Homo sapiens: one gene and its partner. The protein of the gene in region 1 interacts with the protein of each later gene in a biochemical or structural test. Each region holds a gene or a part of one and is shown in the gene's direction. Other genes may lie near its edges.

Region 1 (9,989 bases):
TGAGACAAGGTCTTACCCTGTTGCCCAGGCCCAGGTGCAGTGGCAAGATTGTAGCTCACTGCAGCCTCCAACTCCTGGGTTCAAGCAATCCTCCAGCCTTGGCCTCCCAAGTAGCTTGGATTACAGGCATACACCACCATTCCTGGCCAAATTTTTTTTTCTTTGAGGGGACACAGTCTTGCTCTGTTGCCCAGGCTGGAATACAGTGGCACAATTATACCTTTCTGCAGCCTTGACCTCCTGGGCTCAAGCGATCCTCCCACTTCAGCCTCCCGAATAGTTGGGACTACAGGCATGCACCACCGTGCCTGGCTAATTTTTAATTTTCTTGTAGAGACAGGGTCTCCTAGGTTGCCCAGGCCGGACTCTAGCTCCTGGGCTTAAGTGATCTTCCTGCCTCATCCTCCCAAAATGTTGGGATTACAGGTATGAGCCACCCCAACCAGCCCAATCAAAAGAATATTTATTTATTTATTTATTTATTTATTTTTATTTTTTATTTTTGGGGGTAGAGATGAGGCCTTGCCGTGTTGCCCAGCCTGGTCTCAAATTCTTGTCCTCAAGCAGTTCTCTCACCTGGTCCGCCAAAGCACTGGGATTACAGGCTTGAGTATCACACCTAGCTGTTTTTCAGTTTTTTTAATTCAAAAAAACATTTTGTTAAGAGGTAGTGTATTGCTCTGTCACCCAGGCTGGAGTGCAGTGATGTGATCAGAGCTCACTGTAGCCTCAACCTCCTAAGCCCAAGTGATCCTCTTGCCTCAGTCTCCCGAGTAGCTGGGACTACAGGCGTGTGCTACCATGCCAGGCTAATTTTTTAATTTTTTGTAGAGACTGGGTCTCCCTATGTTGCCTAAGCTGGTCTTAAACTCCCAGGCTCAAGCCCCACAACCTGCTGGGATTACAGGTGTGAACACCACGCCCAGCCCTTTGTCTTTTTTCACAGTGATTGTTTGGAAAAGTTCAGAGAAGTCCCAGTTCTGCAGTCTGATTTGTTCCTGATTTGTGTTGCCTTTAACTGGAAATTGGTCTAAAGGCCTCAGTGAGTCCAGGTTTGCGCTTTTTGATGAAAACCCTGCCCAGGAGTGGCATATATATTTTATAAGCCCACTAGTAGGTGTGTGATGCCAGCTTTTCCAGCTGTTAGTGATGGCCGTCTGGTCCCTGATAAGGGCAGTGACATCAGACTTCTCTGTTGAAGGGAACCTGAGGCACCCTCTCAATCAGCCCTCCCAAAGGCATGTGTCACCCCCAGTGTTGAGTAAGAGGGAAGCTCAGCACTGTGAAGTGACGTGCTCGGGTCTAAGGCCTCTGCCTCCCCTTGGCCCTATGCCCAGATTGCATTTGGTCACCTGGACAGACTGTAGGGCTTAGACCTTGGCTTAGCTGGTTAGGATCACTTTCCCAGGGGGAGCATCCTTCCTGCTTTAGTCTCATTCTCTGAAGATAAATGGCAATATTAAGAAGCAGTGCCCAACCCCACCTCATCCCTACTGAGGCCCAGATATGATTGTGGGCAGAGAAGCCTCAGTAGGGATCCTGGCCATTTTGCAGATCTGTTCTTGAGGGCCTGCTGACAGCATTGAGCCTATCCTAAGAGTGGAATTCAGTCGAGGGCTTTACACTTACTATCTAGTCAGTTCTCCATCCAGCCCTATGCAGCAATTGCTATCCTCTCTCTCTCTTTTTTTTTTTTTTTTTTGAGACACAGAATCTCGCTATGTTGCCCAGGCTGGAGTACTGTGGCTATCCGTAGGTATGATTATAGCACACTACAGCCTTGAATGCCTGGGTTCCAGGGATTCTCTTGCCTCAGCCTCCTGAATTCTTGGGACTGCAGGCATGTGCCATCACACCTCGCTTGCTATTCTTTATCCCCAATTTTCGGACAGGAAATGGGCTTCTAGAATAAATGTAGTCAGACCTCCATTATCCATGCGTTCTACATCCATGGGTACAACCCGCTGTGGATCGAAAATGTAGTTAGGCCTAGGATGACTGTGTCTGTACTGGACATGTACAAACTTTTTTTCTTGTTGTTATTCCCTAAACAATGCAGTCTAACAACAACTTACATAGCATTTACATTGTATTAGGTATTACAGTAGTAATCCGGAGATGACTTAAAATATATGGAAGAATGTGCAGAGGTTAAATGCAGATACTGTGCCATTTTATATAAGAGACTTGATCTCAGCCACTGAAGTTGAGTTTAAAAAACAAAGTAAAAAAATATATGTAAAGGAGTTAAGTATTCATGGATTTTGGGATTCATGGGGATCCTGGAGCCAATCCCCTGTGGATACCAAGGGACAACTCTAATTTACTTCTCAAGACATCTAGCCGGGCACGGTGGCTCACACTTGTAATCCCAGCATTTTGGGAGGCTGATGTGAGGATCGCCTGAGCCCAGCATTTTGAGGCAAGCCTGGGCAACATAGCAAGACCCTGTCTCTAAAATAAAATGTGTGTGTGTATTTAGTGGGGAATGGTGGTGCATGCCTGTGGTTCCAGCTACTCGGGAGGCGGAGGTGGGAGGATCGCTTGAGCCCAGGAGGTTGAGGCTGCAGTGAGCTATGATTGTGCCACTGCACTCCGTCCTGGGTGACAGAGCAACACCCTGTCTCAAAAAAAAAAAAAAACTTACAGCTAGGGAGTAAAGGAGGCCCTGAGCAGCTTGATAGGTGCTGTGCAGCTGGCAGGGGGCGCCGTTGCCTACAGAAGGGGCTAAGCCCATCCTGAACCCCAACTCCTATTGCTCCCACTCAGCTCACTCTTAGGAGGGAGTGGCCTCGCCACCTAATGACCAAGAGGAGGTGCTGGATCTGGCTACCTAAGATCAGAGAGGTGAAGCCATCAGCCCCTATTGCCCAGAGCTTCTTCATCTGTGAGGGGGATAGTCATGGCAACCACTTGGGACTGCCCTTGGGAGATTTAAATGGGTCTAGGCCTAGCTCTGATGATCTAGGCACTGTATCCCGCACAGATGAGGAAGCTGAGGGCTCCAGAGAGGCAGAGTGAACAGCTGAGCCCCAGGGAGCCTTCCCGAGCTGAAGGCCTCACACCCTACGACGTGTGTACCTTCTGCCGGACAGTCCCTGTCTGAGGTGGCCATGGTGTCTGTGTTGAGCTGGGGATGAAGGGAGTCATGGGGGCGGCAGGTGTGATTGAGTCATTTGGCTGGCCTTCCTGGCAGCCAGGCCATGGTGGGTGAGGGACACCAAACTGCTCATGCCACAGCTGACATATCAGATAGTTCTCTTGTCACTCTTGACTCATCAGTGCCTGGCCCCTGGCTGCCTGCAGGGCCACCATCTGTGCATCCTGGGCCAGTGCCCAGGGAACTTTCTGGAACCCCAGATGCTATCTGAGGACACAAGGGTACAGGGGATGGTGAAGTTTGAGGTTCCTGAAACCCTCCACCAGGTATGTCTGGCTCTGCTGTTTCTGGCCTGTGACTCCTCAGGCTTTGGTTACCATGTCTACAAAATGGGAACAACAAATCATAGCTGAGTTTGACCCAGGGATTAGATGACATGTATGAACATGCCCGGCCATGTCTATTTTTGCTCATCATCCTGCCCCCAGCACAAGGGCCTGGCACACAGTAGGTATTTAGTACAGGACCGCGGAATGAATGAATGCATTGGGCCTTAGAACACAGCAGAGGCTCTGGGGCCTGAAGGCTGTGGTGTGAGGAGGGGGTGGGGACACTGAAGCCCAGCCCAGTTCCCTCTGCAGCATCTTGTCACCTGAGGGACGGGGAAGAGTGTGGGGTCCTACAGAGAGGAGACATGGGTATGGGGCTAGGGGAGAGGTATCTGCATTGTTCCTGAGACCTCTGCCCCACTCCTGGACAGACCACCATCCTGGAGAGAGTGGAGCAGAAACAGGAGAGGGACCACAAATTCACCTAACCTGCCCCATCCAACGAAGGATGATCATGATAAACGTGCTCTTAGTGAGATATTACTGTGTGCCCGACTTGAGCCAACTACTGTGCCTCTGCATTTCATGTTTGTTTTGTCTTATAATAACCATCAGGAAGAGGTGATCCCTGTTCTACACTGGAGAAACTGAGGCTCAGCCTAGATAAATGGACACAGGTGAAACAGCTAGCAAGGAGCACAGCTGGGATCTGAAGCCCGGGCGGACCTAGGAGTGGTTCTAGCCTCAGTTTATTCCTCCTGGGCAGCCATGCTCAGCCCAGAGAGCTGGGAGAACCAGGTGGTGGGAGTGGGGGTGTCTCAAGGTTGTGTCCTGGTGTTAATCCCTGGGGCCCCTGGCCATATCTAGCTTGTGGTGAGTGTCTCTGGCCTGTTGGAGCAGCCACTGGAATGCCTGGGGCTTGAGTGGCCCTTTGTGGTTGCAGTTCCCTTGGCAATGAAGAAACACTGCTGAGGTCAAGAGCTCAGATTGCCAGAGGGGAAACCCAGCCCTCCTTCTTTGCATGGCCCCCTGCTGGGAAGGGCCACAGCTACCCCCCACCCTCGCCCTCTGCCAGACACCCAGAGGAGGCTCTTTCCAGTGGCACAGTCATGGGGTTGGAGGGGGCACAGGCAGCCCAGCCAGGATTCCTCATGGGAAGTGTGTGGTGGCTCTTTAGACTTGCCTGCTAACGGGAGGCTCTGCCCATAACTTCCTCTTCCCACTGGAGTTCGTTCAGGAAGCCAGAACCAGCATGGGGATGCTCAGGCCTCCAAGATCCCCTAGGACCATGGGCAGGCCACCCCTCAGCCCAGCTTTTGCCTACTTTGAAGACCTCAAGGACAAGAGGGCCCTAATCTTACCGAGCCAGGCCCTCCTCAATCCAAGGCCTTCTTAGGCGTTGCCAAGGAAACTGATGCAGCAGCCAAAGAGCCTGGCCCAGGTCTCCATGACAACCTACCACAGCCCACCAGGGTCCATCCATCTGTGATGTCACCTGAGCCCCAAATGGATGCCCTCCCACCCCCACCACACTTGTCACAATCAGATGTCACAGTCTGATAGCAGGTCCCTGTCACAAAATACCTCACAGCCTGACCTGCAACCCTCAGACCCCTGAGAGATGAGCAGGGAGCTAAGACACTCCTCATGCCTTGACCACACCCTGTGTTTATGCCCCTTTTGGGTGGGGGCCTGAACCTCCAGGCCCTGGATGTGCCCTGGGTGGCTGGCTCAGCCTACAGCTAGAGGGAAGAAGGGAGACCTTGACGACTCGAAGTGGCTGGCTCCTGCTGGCATTCAACACCCATTGGCCTGGATTTCCCCAACTCTGGGCAACTTCCAGTCCAGGAGCAGAATAACCAGAGCCACGGCCAGGGCCAGGGCTGGGGCAGATTATTTATTTTTAGCAGAGTTGCTGGCAGCTGCCTGGTGGGTGCTGGGAGGTGGGATGGGGACTGAGTTTAATCCCTTCCCTCTTCTGGGCTGGGGTATCCTCCCCAGGGTTCAAGCAGGCATCTCCACCTGCAACTCTGTCAGAGCTGCCCCCACCCCCAACAGCCCTCTCAGGGCCCCCAGGGGCTCATGGGGTGACACCAACCCTCACACTGAAGGTTAGGCTCATTAGGGAGAATCTTCAACTCCAGGATGGGGAGTGGAAAGGATTTTGTGTGAATTTAGGACACCCCCTAAATTCTAGCTCAGACCTGAGCCTATGGGGAGTGGGTGTCATGGGCAGAGAAGGGGGATCTCTGTCCAGCCTGTAACTAGCTTACTTGCTAAAAGGACGAGCCGGGACTTGGGGAGAGGAAAGGGAGAATTCAGTCTCACGGGGCCAGACCGAATTCTTCTCCAGAGGGCAGTTGCTGCTTTTGGCTGATTGGGTTTACCCCGCTGCCTGCCTCCCCATCACGTACTCCCCCCGCAACCTCGCTCTCTCTCTCCTTCTCACACACACCCTCAGCTCCGGACCTCGCCTACCGGTCAGCCCCTCTATTCCCAGACAGCTACCGCTACTCCCCTGGCGGGTAGGGCGGGGTGTCGGGGATGTAAGGTCCGAGGAAGAGGGTGGGGGATTCCCCTGGTGGGGGTGGACAGACACGTCAGCCCCCGCAGCAGCGTGGACCGGGGGCGGGAGCGGGGGCGGGTGGAGGCTTAAATAGGCGGCTCTGGAGCCAGAGCCCAGTGCGGGCTGAGAAGGCGGTGGCTGCAGCAGCAGCGGCGGCGGAAACCCTAAAGTCCGAGTCCGGACTACGAGTGCGTGGCCTCCTAATCCGGATCCTAGTCCTGAGCGTGTCTGTGTGCGAGTGGGTGAGTGTCCTGGCGGAGCGGGGTCGGGGCGGCTGCAGATGGATGCGCCAGGTCCGGAGGGGTCCCGGGTGAGGGCGCCGCGACCTGGGGGCTGGGGGAGGGCTGCGGCGGGACCTCGGCCGGAGCATCCCGCCTGACTCCGGGTTGGGCAGGTGCGCCCCGGGTCCCGCCTCCCTCGCGGCTTACACGGCCACTCGGGTTCCTGATCCCCTAGACGGTCCCGGACGCGATGACCCTGAACGGCGGCGGCAGCGGAGCGGGCGGGAGCCGCGGTGGGGGCCAGGAGCGCGAGCGCCGTCGGGGCAGCACACCCTGGGGCCCCGCCCCGCCGCTGCACCGCCGCAGCATGCCGGTGGACGAGCGCGACCTGCAGGCGGCGCTGACCCCGGGTGCCCTGACGGCGGCCGCGGCCGGGACGGGGACCCAGGGTCCCAGGCTGGACTGGCCCGAGGACTCCGAGGACTCGCTCAGCTCAGGGGGCAGCGACTCAGACGAGAGCGTTTACAAGGTGCTGCTGCTGGGGGCGCCCGGCGTGGGCAAGAGCGCCCTGGCGCGCATCTTCGGCGGTGTGGAGGACGGGCCTGAAGCAGAGGCAGCAGGTGAGGGGACCCAGCTGTTCAGGGGAGGGGCGATCCCGGGGCTAGGACTAGGGGCTGAGACCGGTACTCAAAGCCGCAAATACCGTGGAATTATAGTTGTTGTTGTTGTTATTATTATTATTATTATTATTTTATTATTATTTTGAGACAGAGTTTCGCTCTTTTTCCCAGGCTGGAGTGCAGTGGCCTCGATCTAGGCTCACTGCAACCTCCGCCTTCAGGTTTCAAGGGATTCTCCTGCCTCAGCCTCCAGAGTAGCTAGGATTACAGGCGCCTGCTACCACGCCCGGCTAATATTTGTGTTTTTAGTAGAGTTGGGGTTTCACCATGTTGGCCAGGCTGGTCTGGAATTTCTGACCTCGTGATCCGCCCACCTTGGCTTCCCAAAGTGCTGGGATTACAGGCGTGAGCCACCGCACCTGGCCAATACTGTGGAATTCTATTGGCGCTTTCAGAATCATGCCTCTACCTACCCACTTCATAAATGGGGAAAGGAAAGGAGAAGGGACACCCCCCAGCCTTTGGTAGGGAAGAAATGCCCAGAGTAGAAGGCCAGGGCATAGATATGGCTACTCTGTGGGATGGGACTGGACATCCCTCCCTGCCTATCAGGGACAGGTCAGAGTTTCTAACCAGAGGGATTTCTAAGAGAGGAGCCCTAGGTGGCCAAGGTCCCCAGGGGGGGCATGTGGGTGGAGGTCAGGCACACCATGCCCTCCAGCCCCCACTTCCCTGCCTGGCACTGCTGTTGCCACATACCAGCATCTGCAAGTGGAGTGGAGGGTAAGGAGGGCTCTGGGGAAGAGTTGGAGGGTGTGGCCAGAACAGGAAACCTGGCAGCAGCGGCTTTGACAACCAGCTGGTAACCTGTCTACTGGCCTTCTGCCTAGGGCACACCTATGATCGCTCCATTGTAGTGGACGGAGAAGAGGCATCACTCATGGTCTACGACATTTGGGAGCAGGTAGGGTGCAAGCAGAGACCCAGGGCAGGGGAGGGAGGAGTGAGTTGGGTTAGAGGTCTGGGAGTGCCAGGCTCGTGTCGGGGGCATGAGGACTGTTGGGCAGATGTGTGTTGTGTGTTCTCCAGGACGGGGGCCGCTGGTTGCCCGGCCACTGCATGGCCATGGGGGATGCCTATGTCATTGTGTACTCAGTGACGGACAAGGGCAGCTTCGAGAAGGCCTCAGAACTGCGGGTCCAGCTGCGGCGTGCACGGCAAACAGATGATGTGCCCATCATCCTCGTGGGCAACAAGAGCGACCTGGTGCGCTCTCGTGAGGTCTCGGTGGATGGTGAGTAGGCGGCAGGTTGCAGGGGGAGGGAGAGCCCAGCTGGGCCCTGATCCAGGCAGTCTTGGCTCAGCTTGAGTCCCTGGGGATCATCAGAGGCTAAAAATGTTCAGAAAGAAAACTGGCGGGGAGGGAAATGGGAGAGAGCTGGTGCCTGCTCACAGGGCTCCGGAAGGCCCCAGAGGGCTGGGGAAAGAACCAAATCTGATAGGGGAGCTGGGCACCGCAGGGCCCTCCTCTCCTGCCCCTCTTGGTCCTGGCCTGGCTGGTTGGGGGGGTAAATGGGTGGAAGAGAGTGTAGGGGAACAGGCCAGGAGGTCAGAGCCTGTGTGCTAGGTCTGGGCCATTCTTAGAGTAGACTTGGCCCTGGGGAAGACCCTTCCCACTTGGCCTCAGCATCCTTTTCTGTGGACCCCAGTACTGAGCCCCTCAGAGGAACCCAGCAGTGACTTGGTGACCTTGCCTCCGCAACCCCAGTCCACTGGATCATTCATCATGATATAACCTCGAATTAAAAAATACTAAGTTGTGCGGGGCATGGGCCAGGGGGTGGCTAACGCCTGTAATCCCAGCACTTTGGGAGGCCGAGGCGGGTGGATCACGAGGTCAGGAGATCGAGACCATCCTGGCTAGCATGGTGAAACCCCATCTCTACTAAAAATACAAAAATTAGCCGGGCGTGGTGGCGGGCGCCTGTAGTCCCAGCTACTCGGGAGGCTGAGGCAGGAGAATGGCGTGAACCCGGGAGGCGGAGCTTTCAGTGAGCAGAGATTGTGCCACTGCACTCCAGCCTGGGAGACAGCGAGACTCTATCTCAGAAAAATAAAATAAAATAAAATAAAATACTAAGTTGTCCAACATAGTTCTCATTTTCCTGTGTTTACTACTGTCGTACTTTGTTTAAATATCAGGCTTCAAATTATTTCAATAAATGGATCTCCTTTTGAGGGCCACTGTTTTGGGGGCTCCTTAAATGCAGGCACTCTGCCTACTGGGTGACGCAGCAGTGCCCAGTACCCTCAGTACAGGAGCTGGGGTCTCTGTGTTTTCGGGGAGGACCTTGCAAATTCTCGAGTGGCAGCTTCCATGGGTGGCCACTGTTGGAGGGGACTCCTCATTCACCCACCCTTTGTTTACTGGTGCCTGCCTTTCCCCACCCACACAGAGGGCCGGGCCTGCGCGGTGGTCTTTGACTGCAAGTTCATTGAGACATCAGCGGCATTGCACCACAATGTCCAGGCGCTGTTTGAAGGTGTCGTGCGCCAGATACGCCTGCGCAGGGACAGCAAAGAAGCCAACGCACGACGGCAAGCAGGCACCCGGAGGCGAGAGAGCCTTGGCAAAAAGGCGAAGCGCTTCTTGGGCCGCATCGTAGCTCGTAACAGCCGCAAGATGGCCTTTCGCGCCAAATCCAAGTCCTGCCACGACCTCTCGGTTCTCTAGGTCCCACCCGCTCCCACTATGGTGGGAGACGAACGGAAGGGTTGGTGGGCTGGCCCAGCCAACTGCCCCGGGTGCCTCAGAGCAGGCTCAGACTCTGGGTCCCTCGGAGCTGCCAGCCGGGCACCCCCAACCTCATGGTCATGGACAGATAGACAGTGCTGCCCTGCGAAGTGGCTCTCAGGGGCCAGTGAGGGCTGGGCCCACAGAGATGCATGCGCAGGCTCATATGCGTCCCAAGCAGCCGCAGCGCAGCCGCCGGGCAGGCCTGCGTGCCGGGAGAGGACTCTGCCTTTTTTCACAGCCCGGGTGTGCCTGCCCTGGAGGGAGGCTCTTCAGTGCGGTAGCTATTTGTTTACATGCAGATTTTTGTAATAAAGGCTATTTCCTGATAGTCATGGCTGTTGACTCTCTTTCCTCCT
Region 2 (8,008 bases), on another chromosome or scaffold:
AAGCCCCCTGGGAATGCAGAGGAGTCCAGCATACTTCAACATGCAGGTGGTCTCCCAGACCCTGTGGGTTTCTGTTTCCCCTCTGCTGAGGAATATGTGATATTTCAACCACCACAAAACAAAACAGAGCAAACAGGGCAACTTAGGTGTCCAAACTGAAGTTGCTGCCAGGCACGGTGGTTCTCACCAGTAATCCCAGCACTTTGGGAGGCCAAGGTGGGCAGATCACCTGAGGTCAGGAGTTTGAGACCAGCCTGGCCAACATGGCAAAACCCTGTCTCCACTAAAAATACAAAACTGAGCTGGGCATGGTGGTGGGCACCTGTAATCCCAGCTACTTGGGAGGCTGAGGCAGGAGAATCACTTGAACCCAGGAGACAGAGGTTGCAGTGAGCCAAGATCACACCACTGTACTCCAGCCTGGGTGAGAGAGTGACATGCCGTCTCAAAAAAAAAAATTGAAGTTGTTGATTTTGTGCATTTTTTGAGCCCCAAAAGGTGGCATGCATCTGTAGTCCCACTAGTCCTGAGGCTGAGGTGAGAAGATCATTTGAGCTCAAGAATTTGAGACCAGCCTGGGCTGCATAGTGAGGTTTTGTCTCTTTTAAAAAAAAAAAATTGGCTGGGCGCAGTGGCTCGTGCCTGTAATCCTAGAACTTTGGGAGGCCGAGGCGGGCGGATCACGAGGTCAGGAGATCAAGACCATCCTGGTTAACATGGTGAAACCCCGTCTCTACTAAAAAAATACAAAAAAATTAGCCGGGTGTGATGGCGGGCGCCTATAGTCCCAGCTACTCGGGAGGCTGAGGCAGAATGGCGTGAACCCGGGAGGCGGAGTTTGCAGTGAGCCGAGATCGCGCCACTGCACTTCCAGCCTGGGTGACAGAGCGAGACTCCGTCTCAAAAAAATAAAATAAAAATTATACTATTATTTTATTTTATATAGGTGGACAGTTTTATATGTGTAGATTTTAATATATATTTTTATACATAAAATAAATCTATATACAGAAATTTGTAAGTTTAAGATACAGGCTGGGTACTGTGGCTCATGCCCTATAATCCCACTTGGGGAGGCCAAGGTGGGCAGATTGCTAGAGCCCAGGAATTTGAGACCAGCCTTACATAGCAAGACCCCATCTCTACAAAAAAATACAAAAAAAAAAAAAAAAAGTCAGGTGTGGTGGCACATTCCTGTAGTCCCAGCTCCTGGGGAGGCTGAGGTGGGAAGATCACCTGAGTCTGGGAGGTCAAGACTGCATGAGCCCACCTTCATCCCTAGGATGCAAGGCTGGTTCAACATATGCAAAAAAAAAAAAAGACTGCATAAGCCGTGATCACGCTGCTGCAGTCCAGACTGGGTTGTAACCCAGTCAGACCCTGCTGAAAGAAAAAAAAAATTTTTAACTTATAAATTTGTCTTATTAACTTATAAGTTTACATACGTAGTTTTATTTGATTTTATTTTTTGAGACAGAGTTTCACTCTTGTCACCCAGGCTGGAGTGCAGTGGCACGATCTCGGCTCCATGCAAACTCTGCCTCCCGGGTTCAAGTGATTCTCTTGTCTCAGCCTCCCAAGTAGCTGGGACTACAGGTGCATGCCCCCTTGCCTGGCTAATTTTTGTATTTTTAGTAGAGATGGGGTTTCACCATGTTGGCCAGGCTGGTCTCGAACTCCTGACCTCAGGTGATCCGCCCCCCCCGCCTTGGCCTCTCAAGATGCTGGGATTACAGGCATGGGCCACCGCGCTGGCCTTGTAGTTGTATTTTAGATAGATAACTATAGATTCACTTTACATACAACAAAATGCACAGTTCTTCAATGTTCCATGCTACAAGTTTTGACAGTTGTATATAGCTACCTAACCTCCACCCAAAACAGTATATGGAACTTTTCTATCACCTAAGAAAATTCCCTTGAATCCCTTTTTTTTTTTTTTTTTTTTCCAATAACATACAGAGGTGGAGGCCGGGTGCCATGGCTCACGCCTGTAATCCCAGCACTTTGGGAGGCCGAGGCGGGCGAATCACAAGGTCAGGAGTTCGAGACCAGCCTGACCAACATGGTGAAACCCCGTCTCTACTAAAAATATAAAAATTAGCCGGGCGTGGTGGTGCACACCTGTAATCCCAGCTACTCAGGAGGCTGAGGCAAGAGAATCACTTGTTTCCAGGAGGCAAAGGTTGCAGTGAGCCGAGATTATGCCATTGCACTCCAGCCTGGGCAAGAGAGCGAGACTGTCTTAAAAAAAATAAATTAATCAAAAAAAAATATATATATATATATACACACACACACACATATCTACATACATACAGAGGTGAGGTCTTGCCTATATTGCCCAGGCTGGTCTCGAACTCCTGGGCTCAAGCGATCTTCCCACCTCGACCCCCCAAAATGCTGGGATTACAGGGGTGAGCCACCGCACCGGGCCGAATCCCTCTCTTGACACGTCACCTCCCCACCAAAGGCAGTTGTCCTTTCTGACTTCAAACACCGTGCCTTTGTTTTGTCTGGGCGTGGACATGATATAAATGGAATCATTCATGTTCTTTTGTGTCTTCTTTTGCTTAACATAATCAGTTTGAAATGCAGCCACATTGTTGAGTGGATGCATGGGCTGTCCTGTTGGCGGTGGTGGTGGTGAGTGGAATTCCATTGTATGACTATAGCTCAGTCTGTGATTCCATTTTCCTGTGGATGGACCCACAGGCTGTTTCCCATGTCGGGCTATCTAAGAATCAGGTGCCTTGCGTTTCTGACGGCTGGACTGGAGGTGTCTTCCTCTGGGGTAGGCTCTGCAGGGCCACCTGCTGGACCATTTTGGGGCATGACCACTGACGTTCACCTCCCCATTTGTCCCCATCAGTGAGCCCCATGCCCGTTTCTACGCGGCCCAGATCGTCCTGACCTTTGAGTATCTGCACTCGCTGGATCTCATCTACAGGGACCTGAAGCCGGAGAATCTGCTCATTGACCAGCAGGGCTACATTCAGGTGCCCACCAGGCCGGGCGAGGGGCAGCCCTGGGGAAGCCGTGGCCTGGACCCTTCCTCCCTGCCAACTGCCTGTTCTTGTGCCCACAGGTGACAGACTTCGGTTTCGCCAAGCGCGTGAAGGGCCGCACTTGGACCTTGTGCGGCACCCCTGAGTACCTGGCCCCTGAGATTATCCTGAGCAAAGTAGGAGCCTCCCCAGCCCTCCCCTTCCCCTGAGGCCGGCTCTGCTCTCCTGCTCTCGCCTCCTCCTCACCCTGTGCCCCCCCATCTTGCTCCAGGGCTACAACAAGGCCGTGGACTGGTGGGCCCTGGGGGTTCTTATCTATGAAATGGCCGCTGGCTACCCGCCCTTCTTCGCAGACCAGCCCATCCAGATCTATGAGAAGATCGTCTCTGGGAAGGTGAGGTCCGGATGTGGGGACACAGCCCTGGAAGAAACAGACCGTTCCCTGCTCACCCATCCTATTCCCTGGGGAGCCCTGCTTGTTGTCAGAATAATCTAGAAGTTCCTTAAGTCAGGCCAGGTGGTGAAGCTGGACGCGCCGGCCACACTGAGGCCAACACCTCAAGCCCCCTTGCTGTCCAGCCCCAACCCCGCGGTTCCAGAATCCCATGGGCTTCCAAAATCCCGAGCCTCACGGGAACATCTTGGCCACAGAACACAAACCGCCCTGCCAGACGACCCTCCTTTTCGCTCCTCATCCCAGTTAGTGTGAGTTTTCGCAAATTCCAAGGCAGAAAAACGAATGTATTTGGTTCCTGTTCCCAGGTGCTGTCCATAGCCTCACCCAGGATTGCCCTCACTTAGCATTTATAGCCCATGCTTCCTCTCCCAAACCCAGACTTGCCTAACTCTGAGGGTTCAGATGAGGGGTGGTGAAGCCATCTCAGCTCACATCTATGACAGGTGCAAAGTGCCCACCATCCACCAGGCCCCAGAATCCCCATCAGTCACACCCTGAGATAGTGGCACCCTCTGTAGGAGAGGTGAGGAAACAGGCTGGGAAAAGGGATGTGTCTTGGCCAAGATCACACTTTGGTGAGTAGGTAATCACCGTAGGCAATCATTGTAGGCACTGATGGCCGGAGAGAGGTTGGGGACCCCACCTCTGCCCTCAGCTCAACCACCTTGCTGGGAAGACCCGACCATCCCCCGACTTGGTCCAGCATCTCCTACACAGGAGCTTTTGGTTGGCCCGGAGTCATGACACTGTGGTGGGAGCACCCTCAGGCTCAGCCTGGGCCCCAGTCCCAGCTCTGCCACCGACTGGCTTTGAAACTTTGGGGCTGGGTACAATGGCTCACACCTGTAATGCCAGCACCTTGGGAAGTGGAGGCTTGAGGCCAGGAGTTCCAGACCAGCCTGGGCAACATAGCCAGACCCCATCTCTAAAAAAAAAAAAAAAAAAACAAACTGGCCGGGCGCGGTGGCTTACACCTGTAATCCCAGCACTGTGGGAAGCCAAGGCGGGCAGATCACCTGAGGTCGGGAGTTCGAGACCAGCCTGACTAACATGGTGAAACTCCGTCTCTACTAAAAACACACACAAAAAAAATTAGCTGGGTATAGTGGTGGGCGCCTGTAATCCCAGCTACTTGGGAGGCTGAGGCAGGAGAATCACTTGAACCCAGGAGGCGGAGGTTGCAGTGAGCCAAGATCACACCATTGTACTCCAGCCTGGGCAACAGGGCAGGACTCTGTCTCAAAAAAAAAAAAAAAAAAAAAAAACTAAAAATTAGCTGGGCGTGATGGTGCACCCCTGTGTTCCCAGCTCATCGGGAGGGTGAGGCAGGAGGATCGCTTGAGCCCAGAAGTGAGCTGTGAGCTGTGATTGCATCACTGCAGTCTAGCCTGGGTCACAGAGCCAGACCCTGTCTTTTAAAAAAATTCAGGCAAGTGGGGTGCCCCAGCTGGACACATAGCATCACTAAAAGAGAAAGATGAAGGCCAGGCGCGGTGGCTCACACCTATAATCCCAGCATTTTGGGAGGCCAAGGCAGGTGGATCACGAGGTCAGGAGTTCAAGACCAGCCTGGCTAACATGGTGAAACCCTGTCTCTACTAAAAATACAAAAATTAGCTGGGCGTGGTGGCGGGTGCCTGTAATCCCAGCTACTCGGGAGGCTGAGGCAGAGAACTGCTTGAACCCGGGAGACAGAGGTTGTAGTGAGCCGAGATTGCGCCACTGCACTTCAGCCTGGGTGACAGAGCAAGACTCTGTCTCAAAAAAAGGGAAAGATGAGGCATCTGCCACCGGACCAAAAGAAACTGCCAAGAAAATGGCCCAGAGTTGGCCGGGTGTGGTGGCTCACGCCTGTAATCCCAGCACTTTGGGAGGCCGAGGCGGGCGGATCACGAGGTCAGGAGTTTAAGACCAGCCTGACCAACATGGTGAAACCCCGTCTCTACTAAAAATACAAAAATTAGCCGGATATGGTGGCACACACCTGTAATCCCAGCTACTCAGGAGTCTGAGGCAGGAGAATCACTTGAAACCGGGAGGCAGAGGTTGCAGTGAGCTGAGATTGTGCCACTGCACTCCAGCCTGGGCAACAGAGCAAGACTCCATCTCAAAAAAAAAAAAGAAAAAAAGAAAAAAAAATGTCCCAGAGTGGGAAAAAAAAGAAAGAAAAAAACACAGAAGATCCCACAGGAGAAGATGCACATGACTCCCTTCTTTGTAGCATTTTCTAGTTCCCCCGCACCGTCAGTGGTATTATCTCCCTCGTGCAGCCCTGGCATATCTGCCCCACATCTGAGAGGCATGCGCAGGCCCAGAGAGGTTAAGGGCCATGGCCAAGGTCACACAGCGTGTAAGAGGCACAGCAGGAACAAGAAGTCGTTTCTTGCAACTATAACTCCAGTGATGACTTGCATACAAGGCGTGGGCTCAGAGGGTTTGGGGAAAACTTTCAAGAAGAGTTGAGCTGGGCTTTAAAGAACGGAAGAGCCTTAGCTATGCAGAAAGAGAGGAGAGAAAAAGTTTGTCATAAGCAAGAATATTTCAGAAGTCTCCAGACCCCAGCAGAGATGCCTTAAGCAGCAGCAGCAGCAGCTGAGAATGCAAGTTCTAGAGTCCAGTAGACCTGAGATGGAATTGCCCCATCACACACCTCAATGTGACCTAGGAAGAGCTGTTTAACCCAAGCCTCAGTTTCCCCTTCTCTGAAATGGAAATCATCATAGCACTTGCCTTAGAGCAATGGTTCTTAAAAGGGACCCCTTTCCAGCAGCACCATTGCTGGGGAATTTGTTAGAAATGCAGATTCTTGGGCCAGGCACGGTGGCTCACACCTGTAATCCCAACACTTTGGGAGGCCAAGGCAGGTGGATCACCTAAGGTCAAGAGTTCAAGACCAGCCTGACCAATATGGTGAAACCCCGTCTCTACTAAAAATACAAAAATTAGCCAGGTGTCTTGGCGTGAGCCTGTAATCCCAGCTACTCAGGAGGCTGAGACAGGAGAATTCCTTGAACCCAGGAGGCGGAGGTTGCAGTGAGCCCAGATCGCACCACTGCACTCCAGCCTGGGCTACAGAGTGAGGCTATTTTTTTTTTTTTTTTTTTTTTTTTTTCAAAAAAAGAAATGCAGATTCTTGCTGGGTGTGGTGGCTCACGCCTATAATCCTAGCACTTTGGGAGGCCAAAGCAGGAGGATCGCTTGAGCCTAGAAGTTCAAGACCAGCCTGGGCAACGTAGTGAGACCCTGTCTCTACAAAAACTTCTTAAAATAACTAACTCTTGAATTTTTAAAGTTTTTAAAGAAATGCAGATTCTCAGGCCACAGTATCAGACTTCCTAAATTGGAAACTGTAGGGTAGGCTCAAGGAGCTGTTTTACAAGATGCTGGCAGGCACTCTGCTTTGGAGGCCCACACCCAGTAGGACCGTTGGATGGAGAAAGAAGCATCATGGGCTTCCCAAGTTCCAGACCAGCTTCCCACCCTGTCCTTGTACCCCTTCCTCCAGGTGCGCTTCCCTTCCCACTTCAGCTCTGACTTGAAGGACCTGCTGCGGAACCTCCTGCAGGTAGATCTCACCAAGCGCTTTGGGAACCTCAAGAATGGGGTCAACGATATCAAGAACCACAAGTGGTTTGCCACAACTGACTGGATTGCCATCTACCAGAGGAAGGTGGGCCTCCCCTCCTTAAGCCTGCTGAGGGTTTGGGAGCAGGCCAAGAGTCAGGGAGGACAGCCAATAGAGAAATAGAGAAGAGAACACAGGTTCAGGAGCAACCTAGAGTAGAGAGCTTAGAGCAGTGGGGTCTAGAAATGGGATTCTGGGGTCATTTGGCCATTCCATGACCTTGTGCAACAGATGCCTCTCTCTGGGAAGTAATTTCCCCTTTGATGAGTTGCTACATTAAGAGTTTCGGGCTGTTAAGAGGAATCCATAACCTAATGGTAAGCACAGGCCTGAGTCAGAGTAAATATCTCTTGAATGTTAGGCCATTCGCATTTATTGTTGTAATAATGATTATGTTGAATGCTGAGGTCTGGGTGATTCTTGATCCCTCTCCAGGTGGAAGCTCCCTTCATACCAAAGTTTAAAGGCCCTGGGGATACGAGTAACTTTGACGACTATGAGGAAGAAGAAATCCGGGTCTCCATCAATGAGAAGTGTGGCAAGGAGTTTTCTGAGTTTTAGGGGCATGCCTGTGCCCCCATGGGTTTTCTTTTTTCTTTTTTCTTTTTTTTGGTCGGGGGGGTGGGAGGGTTGGATTGAACAGCCAGAGGGCCCCAGAGTTCCTTGCATCTAATTTCACCCCCACCCCACCCTCCAGGGTTAGGGGGAGCAGGAAGCCCAGATAATCAGAGGGACAGAAACACCAGCTGCTCCCCCTCATCCCCTTCACCCTCCTGCCCCCTCTCCCACTTTTCCCTTCCTCTTTCCCCACAGCCCCCCAGCCCCTCAGCCCTCCCAGCCCACTTCTGCCTGTTTTAAACGAGTTTCTCAACTCCAGTCAGACCAGGTCTTGCTGGTGTATCCAGGGACAGGGTATGG

Evidence for each region. Proteins that work in one complex are often made in the same cells at the same time.
Region 2: of the proteins of RRAD (region 1) and PRKACA, one has a biochemical effect on the other in vitro, tested with the Homo sapiens proteins (2 studies listed by BioGRID).

Annotation. Positions count from the first base shown.
Region 1 is NC_000016.10:66,921,657-66,931,645, reverse strand, and holds RRAD (GTP-binding protein RAD), read left to right. Parts: upstream 1-6,110; 5' UTR 6,111-6,237; intron 6,238-6,442; exon of another isoform or gene 6,443-6,451; 5' UTR 6,452-6,466; coding exon 6,467-6,836; intron 6,837-7,726; coding exon 7,727-7,800; intron 7,801-7,925; coding exon 7,926-8,130; intron 8,131-9,292; coding exon 9,293-9,570; 3' UTR 9,571-9,961; downstream 9,962-9,989. UniProt on the Homo sapiens protein: May regulate basal voltage-dependent L-type Ca(2+) currents and be required for beta-adrenergic augmentation of Ca(2+) influx in cardiomyocytes, thereby regulating increases in heart rate and contractile force.
Region 2 is NC_000019.10:14,092,755-14,100,762, reverse strand, and holds part of PRKACA (cAMP-dependent protein kinase catalytic subunit alpha), read left to right. Parts: intron 1-2,872; coding exon 2,873-2,999; intron 3,000-3,088; coding exon 3,089-3,184; intron 3,185-3,279; coding exon 3,280-3,402; intron 3,403-6,970; coding exon 6,971-7,135; intron 7,136-7,525; coding exon 7,526-7,651; 3' UTR 7,652-8,008.